Linked DNA regions of Homo sapiens. The protein of the gene in region 4 purifies or fractionates together with the protein of the main gene of each other region. This does not show direct contact. Each region holds a gene or a part of one and is shown on either strand. Other genes may lie near its edges. The genes, in order: NUCB2, SLC29A2, THOP1, ENPP4 and MANBA.

Evidence for each region.
Region 1: the proteins of ENPP4 (region 4) and NUCB2 fractionate together in Homo sapiens (co-fractionation; one large-scale study listed by BioGRID). This does not show direct contact.
Region 2: the proteins of ENPP4 (region 4) and SLC29A2 fractionate together in Homo sapiens (co-fractionation; one large-scale study listed by BioGRID). This does not show direct contact.
Region 3: the proteins of ENPP4 (region 4) and THOP1 fractionate together in Homo sapiens (co-fractionation; one large-scale study listed by BioGRID). This does not show direct contact.
Region 5: the proteins of ENPP4 (region 4) and MANBA fractionate together in Homo sapiens (co-fractionation; one large-scale study listed by BioGRID). This does not show direct contact.

What each region holds. Positions count from the first base shown.
Region 1 is NC_000011.10:17,283,225-17,286,743, reverse strand, and holds part of NUCB2 (nucleobindin-2 isoform 1 preproprotein), read right to left. Parts: intron 111-3,519; exon of another isoform or gene 27-110; intron 1-26. UniProt on the Homo sapiens protein: Calcium-binding protein which may have a role in calcium homeostasis. Acts as a non-receptor guanine nucleotide exchange factor which binds to and activates guanine nucleotide-binding protein (G-protein) alpha subunit GNAI3.
Region 2 is NC_000011.10:66,362,002-66,365,390, forward strand, and holds the end of SLC29A2 (equilibrative nucleoside transporter 2), read right to left. Parts: intron 2,424-3,389; coding exon 2,224-2,423; exon of another isoform or gene 1,547-2,223; coding exon 1,435-1,546; 3' UTR 520-1,434; downstream 1-519. UniProt on the Homo sapiens protein: Bidirectional uniporter involved in the facilitative transport of nucleosides and nucleobases, and contributes to maintaining their cellular homeostasis. Functions as a Na(+)-independent, passive transporter.
Region 3 is NC_000019.10:2,809,490-2,812,910, reverse strand, and holds part of THOP1 (thimet oligopeptidase), read right to left. Parts: intron 2,608-3,421; coding exon 2,421-2,607; intron 2,272-2,420; coding exon 2,143-2,271; intron 1,314-2,142; coding exon 1,177-1,313; intron 1-1,176. UniProt on the Homo sapiens protein: Involved in the metabolism of neuropeptides under 20 amino acid residues long. Involved in cytoplasmic peptide degradation. Able to degrade the amyloid-beta precursor protein and generate amyloidogenic fragments.
Region 4 is NC_000006.12:46,143,476-46,146,994, reverse strand, and holds the end of ENPP4 (bis(5'-adenosyl)-triphosphatase ENPP4 precursor), read right to left. Parts: coding exon 3,355-3,519; 3' UTR 307-3,354; downstream 1-306. UniProt on the Homo sapiens protein: Hydrolyzes extracellular Ap3A into AMP and ADP, and Ap4A into AMP and ATP. Ap3A and Ap4A are diadenosine polyphosphates thought to induce proliferation of vascular smooth muscle cells.
Region 5 is NC_000004.12:102,754,461-102,757,979, reverse strand, and holds part of MANBA (beta-mannosidase precursor), read left to right. Parts: intron 1-3,519.

The DNA.
Region 1 (3,519 bases), on a different chromosome or scaffold from region 4:
AGGCAATAGGAAGAAGGAGAACTAACCTACTTTTCTTCCACTATCAGGTCAGTAAGAATGGCCTTCTCCTTTCCTTTATCACCCTCTTCTTTCATAAGAGAGATACGGACCTAAAGAGGAGACACTGGGCTGAACCAGGCTGAAACAGTAGACTCATCCAAACCAGGACAGGCTGATAATTTACTCTCTAAAGTAGGATGGTGTGAAATTCTAAATTATGTAGTCATCTCAAGACAGAATGGGAGGCACTGACCCCAAAGGCATCAGAGCCTCTGGTAAAATTACAAAGTAAGCAGAGTTCTTAAGCTTCTCTTAGTATTCAGTAGATATAATTTCCTTAAATTTTAAAGTCCTAAAAGAAAGCTAATCTCTCTTCCCCTGTCTCAACCAAGTCAAAATTTCTATTCTGCTGGGCACGGAGGTTCCTGCCTATAATCCCAGCACTTTGTGAGGACAAGGAGGGTGGATTCCTTGAGCCCAGGAGTTCAAGACCAGCCTGAGCAATATGGTGAAACCTCTGTCTCTACAAAAAATACAAAAATTAGTTGGGCATGGTGGCACATGCCTGTAGTCCCAGCTACTTGGTGGGGGATGAGGTGGGAAGATCACCTGAGCCCAGCAGGTTGAGGCTGCAGTGAGCCATGGTCACGCCACAGCACTCTAGCCAGGGTGACAGAGTGAGAACATGTCTCAAAAAATAAAATTTCCATTCATACACAGAGGCAGATTTCTTAGCTACTGATTTATACCCATAGTTATACAGATTAAGTTTGCTTTGTGTGTGTGTGTGTGTGTGTGTGTGTGTGTGTACGCACACGTGCGCGCATGTATGTGTGATGGTTTCCTGTTTTGATTGTTGGGCAAGATATCCTGGAAGTGGTTAAAAAAAATTACCATAGATAACCAGGGTGAAAAGTACAGAAAACTGAAAATTTTCTCTTTCCTTGGAAGTAGTCTCTGTTCCTCCTTTATATATCTTTTTTTTTTTTTTTTTTTTTTTGAGACGGAGTCTCACTCTGTCACCCAGGCTGGAGTGCAGTGGCGCGATCTTGGCTCACTGCAAACTCCGCCTCCCGGGTTCACACCATTCTCCTGCCTCAGCCTCCTGAGTAGCTGGGACTACAGGTGCCCGCCACCACGCCCAGCTAATTTTTTTTTTTTTTTTTTGAGACAGTGTCTCGCTCTGTTGCACAGGCTGGAGTGCAGTAGTGCAATCTCAGCTCACTGCAACCTCCGCCTCCTGGGTTTAAGCAATTCTCCTGCCTCAGCCTCCTAAGTAGCTGGGACTACAGGCGCATGCCACCATGCCTGGCTAATTTTTTGTGTTTTTTTTAGTAAAGACAGGGTTTCACCATGTTGTCCAGGCTGGTCTCGATCTCTTGACCTCGTGATCCGCCCGCCTCGGCCTCCCAAAGTGCTGGGATTATAGGCGTGAGCCACCTCACCCAGCCACGCCCGGCTAATTTTTTTGTATGTTTTTAGTAGAGACGGGGTTTCACCATGTTAGCCAGGATGGTCTTGATCTCCTGACCTTGTGATCTGCCCGCCTTGGCCTCCCAAAGTGCTGGGATTACAGGCATGAGCCACCGCGCCCAGCCTCTTTTATGTATCTTTTTCCATCTTCCTCAACCCTCTTCTTTTGCCCCTCTTCCTTTTCAATTAATGGCTGAATTGAAGCATGTTTCCTTTAACCTATTATAAGTATGTATGTATGTATGTATGTATGTATTGAGACTTTGTTTCTAAAAACAAAACTAAACTAATATTTATGTATTAAGTAATGACTATGGTACCAGATACTATGCTAGAAGACAAAGGTAAGCGAGATCGACATAGTCCTTACCCTCACAGGGCTTCAATCTAGTGAGGAAGGTAAGCTATTAAATACAATTGCAATTTTTAAAATGCTGCTTACAAAACAATGCATAGCATGATACTTTTCTGTTAATTAAAAAAAATTAAAAGTCATGAAAATGGTATTCACCAAACAGACATTCTCAGTCAGGTGATTTATAACGTTAAATGTCTCTTAAAAACTGGGTTGTTTTTATGGTCACAAGTCTCCTGATTATTTTGTTTGAGGTCAACAAGTCTAGATCAGAAAAAAGGAAACTGCAATACTAGCAGCAAAAGAACTACTGTACTTTGTGCCTATCTAATACAACCAAAAAATGTAAAAACTTTCAAAAATACAAATATACTGTGTAGAAATAAAATCTTAACTTACTGTCTCCCTTCTAAAAACTCTAAAAGATTGACTGAATCTTTAGAATCTTTCTCACTCCAATTTCCATTCCCTGAATTTCTTTTTCTCAAAGCTATTTATTTCAGTTTACTTTTGAAATAGAAATAATGACAATTGAACCATTTTGCAGGACAAGTATAGGGTATATTTATATAATATTCACAAAGAAAAGTCTGGAAGGGGCTGGGCACGGTGGCTCACTCCTGTAATCCCATCACTGTAGGGGGCTGAGGCAGGCAGATCACCTGAGGTCAGGAGTTCAAGACCACCCTGGCCAACATGGTGAGACCCCATCTCTACTAAAAATACAAAAATTAGTTGGGTGTGGTGGTGGATGCCTGTAGTCCCAGCTACTGAGGAGGCTGAGGCAGGAGAATCGCTTGAACATAGGAGGCAGAGGTTGCACTAAGCCATTGCACTCCAGCGTGGGTGAAAGAGTGAGACTCCGTCTCAACAAAAAAAATAAAAGTCTGGAAGGAAATAAAATATTGGTGTGGCTAAATAAGTTAAGCAAGAACTAGTAGTAAGAGAAAATTTCAAGACAACTAACAGTTAAGTGGTTAAAAAAAGAAGAAAGGAAAGAAAAAGAACAAACTACTTTTAGCTAGCAAGGAAGGCAAGTGTTCCTCATGTGACCATAGTGAAATGTATCTTGAGATGAATTATATTTACTTTCAATATAAATTTACTTCCTGATGATTAGTTATGTGATACCCTTGGGATAACTTATCTCTGTCATTTTAGTGCCTTGATTATAGCAAGTAGCTCAATAAATGTTAGCTCTTTTTAACACAACCATAAAATGTACAACAAACATCTATTGAGCATTTATGGGTAATTTTAAAAAATAACCAGAACAAATCCACAAATAAGACAGAAAAGCTTCTATAATGAATTAAGGGCTAAAAGTAAAAACAGAAACACAATTTATTACATGAAGATTATTTCCTTCTGTAGTTAATAGTCAGACTTATATCTCTGCCATGGCAAATTATAGAAGCTTCTATGAGTGGTTATCACAGCTTACAGATTTCAGAGCTGAAAGATAAAAAGATTCATATCATGGCAGACACTTCTATTTGCTTGCCAATATCCAAATCTTTCCTTCCTTCTCAGTAACAAAAGCCCAATTTTATAGAGGGCAGACATGCAGTCAGCTACATTTCCCTGCTTTCTTATAGCCTCAGCCTTGGTTCAGGAATTCTCCTTAAAGGAAGAGGATGCATCTTTCTTCGCCTATGCTTTGCTGCCTGGAACATGACAGTGATGGTTAG
Region 2 (3,389 bases), on a different chromosome or scaffold from region 4:
AGGTACCCTGTGCTGGCTGAGCACCTAATATCTAATAGGTGCTCAGTGAATGTTCACAAAGGCAGGTGGGCAGAAAACCCTTGCTTTTCTCTGGGACGGGCAGGGTAGTATAGGTGTGTGGTGAAGCAGGCCTTTCCTCCATCCGTGTGTAGAATTGGTGGGGTCGCCAAAGCCCTGCCCACACTGACTGCCTCTCTAAGGCCAGATTTCCAAGGAGGAGCTATCCTGGGGAGGCAGAGGATGCTGGTGAGAGCCCAGGGGCTCATGGAGTGGGAGAGCAATAGTTGTCCATCCAACTAGGTGCTCTGCCCAGGAGCTCAGGATTCCTTGCAGGTCAGTACCCCCCAGCTATCATGTGGTCCAGAGGACCCAGCACAGAGATGCCCACCAATCCCTACCCCTCTCAGGGCCTCAGTCATCCCACCTGTCAAGGGGGTACAATCTTTCCGACCCCACCCAGTTCACTGAGGCCAATAGAGCCAACAGCACTTCGGAAATAAAGACTTGGTGAACGCATCATACAAATAAATGGGGTTATTAGACCCAAGAGCAGGGTCAGAAGGAGAAACAGCAAAAACGGGGAGTAAGTGCCCAGGCTCCTGCCCCAAACCCCTTGAGGAAAAGAGAAACAGGTGTTGGGCAGGAAGAACAGCACCAACAGGGAGGAGAGAGAGGGGATTGGGTCCCGGCTCTACCACGGACCAGTCACTTTCCCCAGGACTCAGTTTTGTCACCTGTATAATGGGGGAAGCACAATCCTTGCCTGACTCCTTCCAAGAGCCTCAATTAGGCTTCGGTGAGAGAGTGGGTATGGAAGAGCTTTGCAAACTGTAAAGTGCAGTACACACATGCAGGCTAGCTGTGGCCCTGGGGCCCAGGCCCAGCTGGGCTCTGCGGAGTGGGTACAGTAAGTGTTGGCAATGAAAACACTGCTTGAGGCTGAGCCTGGCCCTTTGAGCACCCTCAGGTCCTCCACATCTGTTCCTCCTCTCAGGTGCCCACAACTTCCCTGGCACCTTTTACCCTGGGTGGCTGAGGCCTGGGAAGATGAGGCGCTCCTGGCCTGGGCTGGCCCCGCCTCCCACTCTGAACCCTCTGGTCACCTCTGCTCCTGATGATGATGAACAAATGCAGACCTGGTGGTGGGGAGCAGCCGTGCCCTGCACCCTCTTTTCCCTAGTCATCACCCTTTCCATGAGGTCTTGTGCGAGTCACCCCCATTCCTGGGTGAGGGTTAGAATGACCGGTGGTGATTTCTTCCCCACAGCACTCCAAGTGGATGAAGAGCAGCTCCTGCCCGCTGCTGGCAGCCTCAGGCCCAGGGGCCTCCACCCCGCAGAGGCCTGAGCCAAGCTCGCCATTCGCCCTGGGCTGGATCTCAGCTCCGGAAGGAGACGTCGAGAAGAGGCTGCCAAAGAGCCTGGAGGGGCCACTTCAGAGCAGCGCCTTGAAGAGGAAGGAGAGGGAGGCTCCACAGGAAAGTCCCAGGGCCAGGAAGAAGGTCATGAGGGCGCCGGCCACCTCCCTCTCGTGTGGCAGCACCTGCCTAGAACACCCGGGAACAGGAGCTCTTAGAAAATGCTGGGTCTAAATCTGGACCCAGCTCCACTGCCCTCTGCCCATCCAGTCTGGGCTCTGACCCAACCCCTCTGTCACCATAACTGGCCCCTTCTTTCCGGGCCTCAGTTTCCTGGTCTGTAAATGAGGCTGCTGGATAAGGATGTCTCTCAGGGCCTCTGAGTCTAACATGATGGGATTCCAGATTCCACAGCCTGCCCTTTCCACAGTGCTCTCAGCCTGTCTGCCCTGCCAGCTTCATTCTCTCTGGATTCTCCACTCCATTGCCCCTTGAGGAAATAGCCCATGACCTTGTTTTTGGTCAAAACCTTAGCTCTCCTTCAACTGAGAATTTTACAGTTAGATGGGCCCTGAGGGATGACAGTTCAACCCATTTTTTTTTACAGATGGGGAAACTGAGGCACATTGAGGCGGCCCCAGAACCAGTGCCTGGGCTACTTGGTTGGGCGGGTACCTCCCTAGCCCAGTTCTCTCCCCTGCAGTTAAGGCTTGGCCCAGTAGGGGGCGCCAGCAAGGCCTGCAGACAGCTAGGGTTGGGCTGGCCAGAAGCAGGATGGGCCGTCCCTCCATTGCAGGCGGTCCCTTCCCAAAGACTGAACCCACCTCCCTACTCCCAGCCCCCCACCCCACCCCATTGCCCCGGACCTGGGCGCCAGGCACATGGTGAGGGACACCAGGTAGCCATTAGAAACGGCAAAGAGCAGCATGAAGGTGATGAAGTAGGCATCCTGTGGGAAGAGGATGGGCAGCCGGGACCTCTGGGGCACGTGGCACAGCATGAAGAGGGGCACGAACAGGAACCGCAGGCAGACCAGCAGGGGCAGCAGCCGGCTGTCCTCGTCTGGCTGTGGTAGAAGCTGAAGTCAGCATGGTCCCTGGAGCCAGGTCTCTGCTCCAGGGCATCTCAGGACACCCATAGAGTACTTTTTTTTTTTTTTTTTTTAGATGGAGTCTCGCTCTGTTGCCCAGGCTGGAGTGCAGTGGCCCTGATCTCAGCTCACTGCAACCTCCACCTCCTGGGTTCAAGAAATCCTCCTGCTTCAGCCTCCTGAGTAGCTGGGACTATAGGCGCCTGCCACCACCATGCCCAGATAATTTTTATATTTTTAGTAGAGCCAGGTTTCATCATGTTGGCCAGGCTGGTCTCGAACTTCTGACCTCGAGTGTTCCACCTGCCTCAGCCTCCCAAAGTGCTGGGATTACAGGCGTGAGCCACCATACCCGGCCTCTATTTTTTTCATTAAAAATTTGTGTGTGTGTGTGTGTACAGACAAAGTCTCACTGTGTTGCCCAGGCTGGTTTTGAACTCCTGAGCTCAAGCGATCCTCTTGCCTTGGCCTCCCAAAGTGCTCGGATTTTAGGGGTTTTTTTGTTTGTTTGTTTTTGAGACAGAGTCTCGCTCTGTCTCCCAGGCTGGAGAGCAGTGGTGCGATCTCGGCTCACTGCAGCCTCTGCCTCCCTGGGATTACAGGTGTGCACCACCACACCTGCTAATTGTTATCTTTTTAGTAGAGACGGGGTTTCACCATGTTGGCCAGGCTGGTCTCGAACTCCTGACCTCGTGATCCACCCGCCTCGGCCTCCCAGAGTGCTGGGATTACAGGTGTGAGCCACCGCGTCCAGCCCCAGAGTGCTAGGATTATAGGTGTGAGCCACCACGCCTGGCCCACCCATAGGATAGACCCATCTGTCACCCCCTGACCTCCTCTGACCTGACCTACCTTGTGAGCCAGTGAGGGAGGACCCAGCACTGGGGCCTGGGCCAAGTCCACCCAGAAATCAGGGACTGGCCTGGGGCTCACCTCTGCCTC
Region 3 (3,421 bases), on a different chromosome or scaffold from region 4:
GGGGCCAGCAGAGCCCCGAACTCCCCAAACTCCCGAGGTGGCTCCCGCCATCAGCCCCCACTGAAATCCCAGGCTGAGCCCATGAACAGAAGTGGCTGAGCCTCCGGCTGGACAATGTGGAAGCCGCTCGCGCTCTGGGCCGCCCTAAAGGCCCAGGTTTGAGCCCAGCCCTGTGACTGCGGGACTACGGGCAGGTGAGGCAGATGAGACTGCGAGGCGCCGGTGCCAGCCACCAAGGAGACCCCGACGCCCCAGAGCCCCGCAGGAGCCTGCGCGGACTGCAGGCTGCAGAGCCAGGGAGCCACAGTCCCAGCTCCCACCCGGGGGACTCCACCTCTACAGCCCCCGGCCGGTCCTCAGAGGTGGGACCCCCTCACCTCAGCAGCAGGGGGAGCTGCTGGAGGCTGCCTCAGGAGGGGGGAGGTCCCTGCTGGGCTGTGAAGACAGGGGGCTTGTCGGACCATTGCTCCCCCAGGTCCTGGCCTCTGCACCTCTATAAAGGGAGCAGCTGAGTGCCTGCTTGGTGGCTCCGAGGTACCTGCAGGCTGCCCAGTGCAATGTTGCACCCAGGCAGGGCAGGGCCGGCCCTCAAAGCTGGTAGCCACCTGTTCCTTGTGAGGGACTCTGGCGGCTGTCCCGAGCCTGGGTCACACCAAGTCAGCGGGAGGCACAGGCTCACATGGCGTAACGGCCGCACTTCATAGTGAGGAAACTGGAGGTTGGAGGAGCAAATGAATGGCAAACGCCAAGCCTTCTCCAGAGAAGGGTCTGTCTCAGCCCATGGCTCTGAGGCCGATCACGCAGATCCCGGAAGGACTCGTATGGGAAGACACGGAGCTCCCAGCACTCACAGCCCGAGGCCTGAGGGGCCAGTGTGGAGCTTCCTGCAGGGCCCAGGGAGGAGCTGTGGGCAGCACCGCACCAAGACCAGCAGGTGCCTCGGCCGGGATGGCTCACCCGGCACACCCAGGCCCAGGCCAAAGGTGTGCTTTTCTCGGCCCCACCCTGCTGTTGAGGACGCCCTCCCTGTCCCCAGTCCCCGCGTACCTTGCCGTTCAGGACGCCCTCCCTGTCCCCAGTCCCCGCGTACCTTGCCATTCAGGACGCCCTCCCTGTCCCCAGTCCCCGCGTACCTTGCCGTTCAGGACGCCCTCCCTGTCCCCAGTCCCCGCGTACCTTGCTGTTCAGGACACCCTCCTGCTTGAAGCGCGTGTGGAACATGTCCATGGAATACACCTCGCTCCACAGGTACCCGTAGTACTGGGCGTCGTAGCCACCTGCCAGATGGCCGAAGGTTGCAGGCATGTTGGTTCCTGGGGCGGACACATGGCAGGGTTCACGCTGTAGCCCCCACCCCATGCTCCTCCTCCAGGAGAAGACAACCAGCCAGACTCCTGAGACCCCTGCCCGGAACAGGGAGAAGCTGGAGGATCACGGTGAGGGCCGAGACCAGCTGGATACTTCTAGAACCAGAGTCAGCCACAAAGCGAGGGCCACAAGTCTCCGCCCCCTCTCCTGGAAGGACAGGAGCTCATTTAACGGGGCTGTCAGCTGCCACAGAGCAAAGTCCCCATTTTGAGACTGCGTCAATAAAGCAAGGCACGCCCACGCAACATCACAGGCCACGCTGCTGAAAACGCTTTTGGAAAGATTTTTGAAGTCTATGGAGTGTTAAGCCAGCAAAACACCACCCATGTTAAAATCATGCTGTATTTCCAAATTCTGGATCCTCGCAAGCGTGTGTGAACACACATGCACACAGGACAACAGGTGAGCATGGAAACAGGGCCCACTTCTCATCATTAGGATCGGAAATTCCTAGGCCTTCCTGTACTTCTCCAGGCTTTTTACAAAGCATGTGTCATACATTTCAATCAGGAAAACGCCAGCTTCATTCAAAGCAGAGGCTCCAGGGAACACACTCCTCCTGGGGGCTGGGGCCGCACACCCGTCCCCGACCCTGGGCCTGCAGCTGCATCTCAGCTGGGGCTGTCCCCCGAGGAGCCTGGGACGCGCTCCGTGGCTCCCCAGCAGGGACTCCTGCACTTGCTAAGTGAAGCATGGGGACCAACTCCCTTCACCTTCCCAGGGAAGCAGCTGAGGCTCCAAATTCCAGGGTGTGCCCGGCTCAAGGGTGGCTACCTGGCGTGGCCGGGACCCCGAGGATCTCCTGGCAGAGCCGCGCATACTCCTCGGCGGGGTCTGCGTCCGTCTGCGTGTGCAGGGCCTGGTCCACCTTGGCGAGGACGATCTGGCGCAGGTTGAAGAGGCCTGGGCGGGAGGGAAGGAGAGAGCTGGCCTCTGCACCTGCCCCGGCCCACTCTGCCCAGAGCTCCGACCCCCACCCGGGGCACATGCCAGGCCCCAGCTGTGTGCCGCCCCCCGAGGTTAGCACCCTTCCCCGGACGGGGCGGGTGCACCTGTGTTGGCCTGCCGGGACTCAATGAGCTTCTCCAGGAGCTCCCGGGGCACGGCGCTGCCTGTGCGGTAGTGCCGCGACATCCGCAGCAGCGGCTCCTGCTCCCACACCCAGTTCTCCAGCATCTGCGACGGCGCCTCCACAAAGTCCCGCTCCACGTGGGTCCCGCTGAACATGGCGAACTCCGCCTGCAGGGATGGGGCAGAGCCTCAGAGTGCCCAGGTCCTGCCTAGCCCGTTCCCGCCGGCCTGGCCCGTGTCAGCTGCCACAGTGCAAACAGGGCGAGTGCACAGGTGATGCGCTGGGCCCGGCCCTCCCACCCCAAAACTGGAAAACGACCGGGACCCGGAGGCCCCTGGGCTGCTGCTGGCTGCCGGTGGCAGCAGGACACACCTGAAGATGCCGGCCACATGACCCCGTCCCTGGAGGCCACCCACGCTTCTCCTCTAGCCACAGAGCTGCTGCTCCCTGAAAGCTCCGCACCCCGAGGGGTTGGGACCTGGGGACGGCCAGGTCCGGGTGGGGACGCTGTGAGGCATGCTGCATCTCCCTGCTCGTGTGTGTGTGGAACCTTCCCTAAAAGCACAGCCCTTGACTGAGTCCCGCTGGAACCATGGCAGGCAGCCAACGGCGAGGGAACTCCTGGGTGATCCTCAAGGTCCTCTCTGCAACACCGAGGCTTTTCTGTTCCAAGGACCACGCAGCCACACTCCTTGTCCCGACGGAATGCACCAAGGGACTCGCCGTGCCAGGCGCCAGGGACACGCAGAAAGCAGCATGCAAAGCAGGCCTGCAGGCACGTGCGTGGGCACCTGTGTGAGCACCTGTGTGGATGTGCACACGCGTGTGCTGGCTACGAGTGCTGTGCAAACAGTGTGGCAGGGAAGCCAGGAAAGGTGGACACACGGTCGATCCTCATTCCTGGACTCCGTGTTTTCAAACTCGCCTACTAAGATCCACAAAAACCCCAGAGGCCAGCACTGCGGCGCCCCTGAGCAGACG
Region 4 (3,519 bases):
AATGCTTCCCCTACCATCCCCACTATTTTATAATCGGTTTTTTTCAAACCTCTTCTCTTCTACCATAAGCCAATAAATCATAGCTCTGGAGGTTCTATAAAACTTATCTTGGCTTTCTTTCCAATGATGTTCTTATGCTGGATTGTATACTTACACACTGTTTTAAACTTTTTGTTAAAGAGTTAAAAAATCCTAATAAACACCTATGTGGGCTTCTATAATATTACTAAGTCATGTCAACATCTAGCACAGTAAGTATATTTTGCAAGAAGGTAACAAATGTAAAAATCACCAGTGACACTGAACTTTATATTTAATAATTACAGTAAGAATTTTTTGGTAGATTTTATTCACACACATTTTAAAAATCATGAACAAAGTCATTAATTCTGAACTCAAGTAACAGTCAAAAATATTTTAATTTAAATTAAGGCACTACATACACATTTCTTTAAAGCACACTGATGTTATTTTATTTACACACTATTTTAAGAATTAACAATAAATACACATTTTCCATCTCCTCCTTGTCCTTCATTTATAACTTTATATGTTAACAAGGAAGTAAAACCCTCCAAATAAAAGGAATTAAATGCAATAATCCATAAAGCTTATCAGATATGGGCACAAGAAGGAGACACCCAAAAACAATGTAAAAACATTTTAATCCTTTAATGTTACAAGAATTTATCTATAAATTCTTATGCCATTCCTAGTGGAATAATAATATAAAACCTATACACAAACATTGAAATATGTTTTATTCTATTGCTATTTACCAGAAGAATTGCATATAAATAACAGCAGCAGAACTGTCCCTATGTTATACATGAATGTACTTATTCTGAATTCACTGACTGAATTAAAAACACTTAACTCAAACTTTTCCTATTACCTTGGGGTATTGTTTTCACAAACAAGTAAATGTTTCCTAGAGCCAAATACTTTCTACACCCAGAAAATAGAGCAGCATGTTAGTTATTTAACAAAATACACACCAAAACCTTAATGTGAAAGGCTAGTTTTACTATAAGATTTTTCTCAGTGTACTAAAGGAGTCAATGGCTTTAACAGTGATAATTTTTTAAAAGATACAAATGAATTAACACATAGTTCAATATAATATATGTTTTATTAAATAAATACTATTCTTCTTGTCCCATCAACATATACTTTTTAAATTTTTGCTTAATTTACAATTCGAGTTAATATTTTGAGAACGTAAGGAAAGACAAATAGGTAAATGTCTTGTTGAAAGGGTTAAGATACTGACAGGACATACCTTCCTGTTCCATCCTATATAAAATCCACTCATGAGTTGGATGCCAAGTATAGATTTCTGAAACTCATAACCACCAATCACGATAATGCAATCATTAAAACTCACACCATTGCAAGGACCAAGTATAAAATATTCTGCTACTATTTTAGATACTTCAAAAACATCCACTACTTTAAATGAAAAGCTTTAAATGTGTCAATGCTATTTGCTTTTTAATGGAAATTAAAGTAGAATTTTTCTATTATTCTGTTTCGATCAACTATTAACCTTTAGGATAATTGTTTTATGTGAAAAAAATTAGAAATTTTTTTAAAGCAAAATTAGTACTATTGGTTTTTATTTATTTTACTGTTCTTAATACAGTTAACTTATGACCAACAGCATGGATTATTTATACAGGGTTTGAAAATGCCTCTCAACAACCACAAATACAATAGGCAGCAAATACCAGGCTCAAGAAATTAGCAGTGACTCAATAGGACGCACTGTATGTTTGATGACTGGCACCACTGTTGTTCTTTACCATCACAGATAATCAATATTTAACTGGGCTGCATATTTATTATACTTTTATATTTGTAAAACAGTTACCAAGTTTATTTTATATTGTCAAAACTTTAAAGATCATACTATTAACTGCTTGTCTCACGTACTGATGAATGGTTCTTGAGCCCAATTTTTCCCCTACTAAATATAATCTAGTCTGTCACAACCTAGTTTCTTCATATTAATTTTGATTACTAGAAGGTACCAGCTAGCAAAGGCAGGATGACAGTTCTTCACAATAAACCCTTGGCTCTGAACAAACATGTTAAACAGAGGGATTATTTCTGTGATGCAAATACTGGAGAAAAAAGTGGAGGTAGCACTAAGGCTATTCTGCCACTTAACATATGAATGGTGTGAAAGACCAAAAGATACTAAATTTTGTTTAAAATTTCTTAACTATTCTATAGCCTAAAAAGTAAGGCATAAAGTCCCAAAGATAAATACAAAAATCTCCATTCCTCATTCTGTCCCAGTCAAATTGAGATTTGTATTTGGGTCATAAATTTTTCTGTAGCATTTGGATACCTCAGGTTACAACAAACATGAGAGAGTTAAATGATAAAAGTTAATGAAATTAAGTTATGATTTTAACTTGTGAGTTAGGAGAAAGTAAACAAATATGAAGTGCAAAAATAACCTTTCCTGAGATCTGTGTGCTTCAGGAATGTGGAAGCCTGGCCACAGTCCATCTCTGACCTCCTTATATAGTAAATCACATAATGTCCACACAACCACACACAAACACACTTGCACAGGCACACGCAAACAACTAAGTAACTTACATAAAGGCATTAAGCATAGATAGAGAGAAGAGCACTTGTCTCTCTTTTCTTCTGAATTTTTTAACAATAATCTTTAAGACTAACAGCTTAAGACATAATGGTGACAACTCAGGCTTTTATCAAATGGTCTTTGCTTTTTTTTTCAAATAGGTTTCCTTAAAATATTTCTTCATTTGCTATATCTTTTCTGTCTGCTCCAATTTTATTTACCATCACAGAGCATTTCCTACCTCAAGAGGGTACTTGAGATACAAACTAATTAAAGGTAAATATAAAAATATAGGAAGCTTTTCCTCCCTAATATACAAAATTCACAAATTGCATAAAGATTTCTGTTGTTTTCTTTACAAATATATAAATTTATTAGAAAAACATGCCTACTAAATTTTGGTATATTTTCATTTAAAGATGTATCACATCTTCATCGCAAAATACAAGCAGAGGAAGTATTTTTCTCAAAAGCCATTTTTAGTATTTCTAGTTAGGATTGATGTTACCTAATGATTTCCTACCACAAGATGTTACCTAATGATTTACTAACAATTTTACTATGGTCAGCGTTATCTTATTAGCAAATGCACCGAAACAAAACACAAGGAAAACAAAGTAATAATTTTAACATGCTTAGTCTAAGTTCTTTGTCTTTCAAAGTATTCTTTTTCATAGTTACAACACTATTCTTTGGATGTATTCTTAGTTTTGTGATTAATCAAAGACACTTTGTATAAGCCCTAGCACATGTCACCCAATTAAAGGATCATCATCATCTTCTTGTAGCTGAAGTCGAGAAAATGGACGAGGTACAGAAAGTCTATTCTGCATGATTATTATGAGGCATGTTAGCATGGTTAACACCAAGAGTGAACCGATAACAATCGCGATGGCTTCTGGGAGATTAATGCACCA
Region 5 (3,519 bases), on a different chromosome or scaffold from region 4:
ATAGAGGCCCTGAGGCAGGCACGAGCTTGACAAGTTTCAGGAATAGTCAGCAGGCCAGTGTGGCTGGAGACCTGGGAACCAGAGGGTAGGAGAGGAGTTCAAAGTCTAGGGCACATCATGAAAGGCTGTGAGCCATAGGAAACACTTTGGCTTTTATTCTACATGTGATGGGAAGTTATTGGAGGCTTTGAGCTTAGAGTAGCATGATTAGATTTGCCTTTTTAAAGGTCACTCTGTTGTGTGAAGGCTACAGTGCAGGAGAGTGGAAGCCTGGAGACCAACCAGGGGACTATTGCTGGTCTATGTATGGGCAAGAGATGACTTCTGGCTTGGACAAGCATGGTGGCAGTGAAATGGTGAGAATGGTTGTGAGAACACGTTTTACATGTAGAAACAAGAGGATTTCTTCAGTTGGATTTGTTAATGGATTGGGAGACAGAAGGGGGAGGTGCAGGAAAATACCAGGATTTTTTTTATCTGAGCTGGTTAAATGAAATTTGTATTTAGTGAGAGATTCTGTGGCTAGTCTTGGCTATTTCCTAGGTGATTCTCTGGGTTTTCTGTACAGAATCTAAACCTTTGGTTTCTTAGAGAGTCTTTTGGGTTCTCTGTGAAAAGTTATTCCTTCAGCCTGCTATTTTTTTTTTTTTGAGACGGAGTTTCGCTCTTGTTGCCCAGGCTGGAATGCAATGGTACTATCTCGGCTCACCGCAACCTCTGCCTCCTGGGTTCAAGAGATTCTCCTGCCTCAGTCTCCCAGGTAGCTGGGATTACAGGCATGTGCCACCATGCCTGGCTAATTTTGTACTTTTAGTAGAGACAAGCTTTCTCCATGTTGGTCAGGCTGGTCTTGAACTCCCAACCTCAGGCCATCCACCTGCCTCGGCCTTCCAAAGTGCTGGAATTACAGGCATGAGCCACCGTGCCTGGCCCTCAGCCTGCTATTATGCCACACAGTGTAATAGGCATTAGGAATAAAAAAAGAAATTGAGAGTGAGACTATAGTTCCTATTTTGTGGGAGGCCACTTTAGTGAGGCAGAAAACTAAATAATTTCCATATGTTATGTTAAGTGCATACATAAAGGGACCCTTGTTAGGAATGTTCTCAGCTTTTCTGTGGAATTTCTCACTGGTGTAAGTTTTGAAGCAACTGCTTCTTTTTTTTTTTTTTTTTTTTTTTTAGATAGTCTCTGTATGCCAACATTAAAATATATAGATAAGTAAGAAGAAGGTTGGAAACATCACTCCCAGAGATAACCACTATTTTTTTTGACAGCTGTTCATGTGACTAATGCCCCCAACAGTTTTATATATTTATTTATTTTTATTTTTTATTTTTTCCCTTTTTTTGTTATACTTTAAGTTCTAGGGTACATGTGCACAACGTGCAGGTTTGTTACATATGTATACATGTGCCATGTTGGTGTGCTGCACCCGTTGACCCGTTAACCTCATTTACATTAGGTATATCTCCTAATGCTATCCCTCCCCCAGCCCCCAACCTCATGACAGGTCCCAGTGTGTGATGTTCCCCATCCTGTGCCCAAGTGTTCTCATTGTTCAATTCCCACTATGAATGAGAGCATGTGGTGTTTGGTTTTCTGTCCTTGTGATAGTTTGCTCAGAATGATGGTTTGCAGCTTCATCCATGTCCCTACAAAGGACATGAACTCATCCTTTTTTATGGCTGCAAGGTATTCCATGGTGTATATGTGCCACATTTTCTTAATCCAGTCTATCATTGTTGGACATTTGGGTTGGTTACAAGTCTTTGCTATTGTGAATAGTGCTGCAGTAAACATACATGTGCATGTGTCTTTATAGTAGCATGATTTATAATACTTTGGGTATATACCCAGTGATGGGATGGCTGGGTCAAATGGTATTTCTAGTTCTAAATCCTTGAGGAATTGCCACACTGTCTTCCACAATGGTTGAAATAGTTTATAGTCCCACCAACAGTGTAAAAGTGTTCCTATTTCTCCACATCCTCTCCAGCACCTGTTGTTTACTGACTTTTTAATGATCACCATTCTAACTGGTGTGAGATGGTATCTCATTGTGGTTTTGATTTGCATTTCTCTGATGGCCAGTGATGATGAGCATTTTTTCATGTGTCTTTTGGCTGCATAAATGTCTTCTTTTGAGAAGTGTCTGTTCATATCCTTTGCCCACTTTTTGATGGGGTTGTTTGATTTTTTCTTGTAAATTTGTTGAAGTTCTTTGTAGATTGTGGATTAATTAGCCCTTTGTCAGATGGATAGATTGTAAAAATTTTCTCCTATTCTGTAGGTTGCCTGTTCACTCTGATGGTAGTTTCTTTTGCTGTGCAGAAGCTCTCTAGTTTAATTAGATCCCATTTGTCAAGTTTGGCTTTTGTTGCCATTGCTTTTGGTGTTTTAGTCATGAAGTCCTTGCCCATGCCTATGTCCTGAATGGTATTGCCTAGGTTTTCTTCTAGGGTTTTTATGGTTTTAGGTCTAACATTTAAGTCTTTAATCCATCTTGAATTAATTTTTGTATAAGGTATAAGGAAGGAATCCAGTTTCAGCTTTCTACATTTGGCTAGCCAGTTTTCCCAGCACCATTTATTAAATAGGGAATCCTTTCCCTATTTCTTGTTTTTGTCAGCTTTGTCAAAGATCAGATGGTTGTAGATGTGTGGTATTATTTCTGAGGGCTCTGTTCTGTTCCATTGGTCTATATCTCTATTTTGGTACCAGTACCATGCTGTTTTGGTTACTGTAGCCTTGTAGTATAGTTTGAAGTCAGGTAACGTGATGCCTCCAGCTTTGTTCTTTTGGCTTAGGAGTGTCTTGGCAATGTGGGCTTTTTTTGGGTTCCATATGAACTTTAAAGTAGTTTTTTCCAATTCTGTGAAGAAAGTCATTGGTAGCTTGATGGGGATGGCGTTGAATCTATAAATCACCTTGGGCAGTATGGCCATTTTCATGATATTAATTCTTCCTATCCATGAGCATGGAATGTTCTTGCATTTGTTTGTGTTCTCTTTTATTTCATTGAGCAGGATAACCACTATTAAAGTAAAAATTCAGTGCATCCATTCTAATTTTTTTAATGCATACACTTTTATAAGTATTAAATATACAGCTTAACAACTCTTGGGCAGGCACAGTGGCTCACGCCTGTAATTCCAGCACTTTGGGAGGCCAAGGCGGCAGATCACGAGGTCGGGAGATCGAGACCATCCTGGCTAATACGGTGAAACCCCGTCTCTACTAAAAATACAAAAAATTAGTCCGGCGTGGTGGCCAGCACCTGTAGTCCCAGCTACTCGGGAGGCTGAGGCAGAAGAATGGCATGAACCCGGGAGGTGGAGCTTGCAATGAGCCAAGATCACGCCACTGCACTCCAGCCTGGGTGACAGAGCAAGACTACATCTCAAAAAAAAAAATAAATAAATAAAATAAAATAAATAACAACTCTTTCACATTTAATGTATTGTGATGCTCTTACCTGCATTAAACAGGTTTCTATAAACCATGTTTAGTGGCTTT